2 separate regions of the Homo sapiens genome follow, and region 2 is linked to region 1. A link means that fine-mapping ties the variant in region 1 to the expression of a gene that starts in the linked region. Tissue or cell type: whole blood. Region 1 holds a variant in brackets; the other region holds the start of a gene. All regions are shown on one strand. Distances are from middle to middle.

Evidence for each region. PIP is the estimated chance that this variant, and not a neighbour inherited with it, causes the effect.
Region 2: NXF3 starts here. The variant in region 1 is fine-mapped to the expression of NXF3 in whole blood (TOPMed, PIP above 0.99).

Annotation. Positions count from the first base shown.
Region 1 is chrX:102,745,487-102,748,171 of GRCh38, reverse strand. All of the region lies in intron 8 of ARMCX5-GPRASP2 (ARMCX5-GPRASP2 readthrough), which reads right to left. GPRASP3 (G protein-coupled receptor associated sorting protein family member 3) reads right to left here. Exons shown (of 4, transcript NM_001142524.2): 3 at 261-355. Among named protein-coding and RNA genes, the nearest start is that of LINC00630, 22 kb to the left of the region's middle. RefSeq lists a silencer at 1,705-1,754. The variant G/A (reference allele first, on the strand shown) is at 1,656.
Region 2 is chrX:103,091,805-103,094,489 of GRCh38, reverse strand. It overlaps NXF3 (nuclear RNA export factor 3), which reads left to right and starts at 1,347. Exons shown (of 20, transcript NM_022052.2): 1 at 1,347-1,494. The coding sequence starts at 1,467.

The DNA of each region.
Region 1 (2,685 bases):
TCTAGGGCTTTGGTTATATAACACTTCTGGCCTCCTAGTACTCCTTGTGGCTTATCTTCCCATTTCCTGCCCCAATATCTACCAATTACCTCATAGGCATAATCCTGGCTCACCCCACCCCATCACTTGTACACAAATGTGAGGTCAGAGGTGACTAGAAAGATGGAAGACAGTGGCACCAAGATATGATCTGGTCTAACCCACTTGGCAACAGCCTTTCCATAACCCCAATCAACGGGGGTGCTCACACATAAACCTACCTTGAATCCAAATGAATAGTTTTTGTTCTTTCTTAATTAACTTCCAAGTGAACAGCTACATACAGATCTCTACAGGAACCTAGAAAGAAACAGACCTAAGGATAGAAAGGAAGGCAGAGGAAAGAAAACAGAAGAGACTAAGATGATCTAATGCCTATAACAAGGATTATAACATATGCTTTTGAATATTCAAGGCTATGTTAAATGTCTCCCACCTGTCTGCTCTTCCTCAATGATTCCCTAATCACCCCAAGACCTGCAGCCTGATTACACCTCCTGCCAACTTTGAAGTCAGTCATTTTCCCAATAGAAGTTACAGCTCCTTTCCTGAACCAAAAAAAATGAGGTGCAGAAATAGGTAGTGGAACATAGGCAATTGTACTTACAAGGCAGGCAGGGAACATAATGGAGACTGTTATTTTAATACCATCTGTGCATGTCCTTCCCCTTCCCCATGCATACCTAGATCCTACTTTATTCACCACCTATGTCAGCCTGCTTATACAGCAGGAGTTCTCAGGAGATGCTATCCTTCCCACCAAAGAAGAGTCACGCCCTACAAAAAGAAGGCGGAGCAACTAGCAAAAAATAACCCCAAGAGACTATGTTAACAATGGTAGAAAAATAGCAGGTTAATGGACAGATTCCCAGAATTCGGATTCTAACACCTCCTTTTTGAGAATCAGAAACTAAGTAAATAAAGTCTCCCAACTCTCATAGCTCCTCAGATATCCACCATCAGAAATGCCATGAATTCTTCTGTGGGACTATTTCTGCACCAAAATGAGAGGGTCTGTGAGGAGTGGCTGGAGATGGAGTTTTGGTTTCCAGAACCATAAACTGAAGAAGCAGATTGACTTCAAATGTTCTAAATTGACCCTTCAAAAAGATTACCCCTCTACTCGGAACCCACATTCTCACACATCATTACATTACTTAAAGTGGATCAGCATGTTGAGAAAACAGATCCTGAACAAGAAAGGTGGAAAAATACTACCCTGTTATTTACATGGACCACTGTTGTGAAATTCGACTAAGTCCACACCCTATTTGCTTGCACAAAACTGGATGTGGGGATCTAAATATGTAAGGCAATAAAACAGTGCGGTATTATAAAAGGCGGTTAAACATTTCATTTTAGTGTCTTCATAATTCACCCACTCAAAGTTCCACTTTTGGAGAACCCAACAGACCTATCACGCAGACAGGAGACTTTAACAACCACCTGGAGCCTGTGGGAAGGGACAGCACCCAAGACACGGGGTCCCACAGGCCCCTTTCCGGAATCAGGGCCCCGAGTAGCGAACGCGGCCCACCTCTCGTGGGCTGGGCACAGAGCTGGGACGCCGGCTCCCCCCGGCCTTCCCGGGAGCCCCCCACAATGGCTCCCGCTCC[G/A]CCATTTCTCCCGCAGGAGCTCCCCCACAGCCCTTTCCGGGCACAGACACCGTCGAGGGCGGGGCGCCGGCGCCTGCAAAGCTGGCTTGGAGGCGGTCAGCGCGGTTCTCCTCCAGACGATCTGACGGTGCCTCTCAAGCCAGCCCCTCAGCCCTTGGCCTGGCTCGGCCTGCACCGGTCACCGCCTCCCCATCGCCAGGGGTCTCGAGCACTGCGCACCTCTCTCCGGCGACCGGCTCCGACCGGATCGTCTCCTCCTTGCCAGGATGTCAGGGTCGGCGGGGCAGGCTGCCAGCCGGTCCACCCTGGCGGACCACCCCAAGCTCACGCACCCCCACTTGCCTTCAGAGGCCCAGGGCCCAGGTCGTCGACCTCCCCCTCCTCTCCTCAGCTCTCCTCTGGCGGCTCCTCACTTCGATTCTCACCGCTTTCCCCGCTATCAGAATGGCAAAGACGCGTCCCGCCCCCCACGCCTCTGCACCAAACTGGGCAGGGGCTGCGCAGGATGCTGCAAGAACCGCTCTCTCCGCGAGGGTGTCGGGAAGGGGGGCGGAGGGATACGGCGCGAAAGTGCTCGACGCCCCCCTCTCAGGCCCACCTTAGTTCCGACCCAGAGGTGGGCGGGGCCATGACGAGCCCCAGCCTGGGCCTGCGGGTTGGCACCAGGCTGCCTCAGGAGGACCCCCGCGGACCCTAACGTGGCGACCACCACCACCACATTTCTGGCGTTGCTATAATATAGGGACGGGCGGGCGGCTGGGGACCCAGGCAGGGGACAGGATCAGGAGGTTGGGAAGAGCCGCGCTGGAGGGAGCAGCGGATGGATACCAAACCGCCCCTTGGTGTGTCTGCACCCCCGCCCCAACTCCCCAACCAGGGACTGCTGGGTGTCTGCCCCTTCCCTCTCCCCAGCCCTCTCACTCTCCTTCCTGGAAGCTAATGGGAGAGGGGGTGTCAGCAGTGCAGTCTGGGAGGGGTGAGGCGATTTCAGGCCAAACAAGCCTGGGCCTCTAGGGTGGTCCTCTTGTGC
Region 2 (2,685 bases), 350 kb before region 1:
CAGTATTAAGAGGTAGGGCTTTAGGGAAGTAATTAGGCCACGAGAGCTCCACCTTCATAGATGGGCGCCGTGCAGCAGGGGGCGGCGCTCGTTGGGGAGGCTTGGGCGGCACAGGAGCCCACGGAGGCGGGGGTGGGGGTGAGGCTCAGGCATGGCGGGCTGCAGGTCCCGAGCCCTGCCCCGCGGGAAGGCAGCTAAGGCCTGGAGAGAAATTGAGCATAGCAGCTGCTGGCCCAGGTGCTAAGCCCCTCATTGCCCAGGGCAGCAGCGCTGGCCGGCTGCTACGAGTGTGGGGCCCACCGAGCCCACGCCCACCCAGAACTCCAGCTGGCCCGCAAGCGCCACGCGCAGCCCCGGTTACCGCTAGCGCTTCTCCCTCTACACCTCCCCGCAAGCTGAGGGAGCCAGCTCTGGCCTCGGCCAGCCCAGGAAGGGGCTCCCACAGTGCAGTGGCGGGCTGAAGGGCTCCTCAAGTGCCGCCAAAGTGGGAGCCCAGGCAGAGGAGGTGCCGAGAGCGAGCGAGGGCTGTGAGAGCTGCCAGCAAGCTGTCACCTCTCACTAGTTTATTCCCTCTCTCTGGCCTGAGACTTTAAGAGCTACATTTCTGGCTCTAATCATTAGGAGTATCCATCTACATTGACTATACTTTATTTTGTCTTTAAGACAATACTTGATTCTTTTCTACTTTCATTACAGTGACACACTAAACTTTTACTTTATATTTTCCTGGTCTGTTTTTTGTATTCTCTCTCTAGGATGGGCTGTAGTTAATTCCAGTCACACGAGTATTTGCAGAACATTGTCTTACTTTGCCCTAACTTAAGTAAACCCCAAATATTATAAGAGTTTAGAAAAGCTGTGCATAGAGGGGTCACCCACTATTCCATGGTTCTCATTTCCACTTTGTTTCTCCAGGTCACATCTGAATCATTCCAGACAAGGTCCTATACCTCATTAAGCCTCAGCACCTTCAGGAAGCTGGTGATTCTGAGTTGAGAGTCCCCTTGTGAGGAATACATGGAGAAAAAAGTAATGTAGCAAGTACAGAGCTTGAGCTACCATAGGCACTCTGAGTCTCTGAGTCTCTGAGTCTGCAGAGTAAATGAATACAATGTAATGCACTGGAGATGACCAGCAAGCTGAGTTTTCCGTGTTTGTTTCAATAAGTATCTGGGTCCTAGGCCTCATGATTGTGATTGTTGCTAACCACCTTTGCAGGAGTGGCTACATTAGAAACATCTCCCTGGGTGTTAGGCTGGCAGCAAACTTTGGGGAGTGGTAAGAACAGGAAGTTAATTCTGTGACTCCTAGGACACTCCTCTCTATGCTTGGGGAAGGAACTTCCTGTAAGCAAGGCTTGAGGCTTGCTCTCGCCTTCGTCAGCAGCCCTCCTCAATCTTCTCCAAACTCCCGTCCCCAGGCCACACAGATTCTCCTCAAGAGAGCCCTATAAGGACATTGGTAAAATGTCACTGCCTTCAGGACACACTACGGGTGAGTTGGCCAGCATGAGGCTGGAGTCTCAGGTCTCACAGGGCAAAAGGGACTGAGCCCCCTTCCCCACCTTACCCTAACCCACATAACACCCAGCCAATCTCCCTTTAGATGGGGGTGGGCAGTGGCAAGGGCCCAGGCCTGAGTCTTGTGGCCTTCTCAGGGCCAGGGTTTGAGGTATGAGGAGGGTCACCTGAGGCAGGGGTTGGTAAAAATTAACATTCCTTGGATGTACACTAGAGGTGGTAGTGGGGCAGGGAATACATCTTTAATCTTCACACTAACCATTCAAGGTAGATTGTATTACCTCCCACCCCAGCCCCAGAAATTTATCAAGGCTAGCCTTATGGCCCAGCATATGACTTATTCTGGAATGTTCCATGTGAAGGTTTTCTGTGCAGTGTTCTATGTCATTTAAGCAAACTTATTACTCATGCCATTTAAATCTTCTATATGTAGCTGAATTTTTGTCTGCTAGTTTTATCTGTTACTCAGAGAGGTGTGTTAAATTCCCACATCACAGTGGTTTTAACTATTTCTCTATTTACTTAGATCAGTTTTTGCTTTGTATCTAAACATAGATTGGTCCATGTTAAGACATGCATACAAATTTAGAATTTCTTTTTTTTTGTATAACTTGAAACTTTATTTTTAAAGTATTCTGAAATTTTTTCAATAATTTTAACCAGCACTTACTTCCCTTAAGCACACACACATTTTTATCTTACAATTATAAGCCCTATTGCAGTACAAAAAAAAACAATAATTCTACTAAGTTAGCCAGCCAATTAATTCTACTAAGTTAGCCAGCCAATCAAACTATGTCCGTAAATAATCATGTTACAGCCTAGAATCAAACAAAAAATTCTTCTAGTTCTCTTTAAAGATATTTATCATTAATTTTTTCATAAAACCAAAGTAATTGATCCAACAATACTAACAGTTCTAGCATGCAACAGACCATCTAATATCTAATGTTTAATCTTCTTCTTTTTTTTTTTTTTTTTTTTTGTGATGGAGTCTTGCTGTGTCGCCCAGGCTGGAGTGCAGTGGCACAATCTCGGCTCACTGCGAGCTCTGCCTCCCGGGTTCACGCCATTCTTCTGCCTCAGCCTCCCGAGTAGCTGGGACTACAGGCATCCGCCACCATGCCTGGCTAATTTTTTGTATTTTTAGTAGAGACGGGGTTTC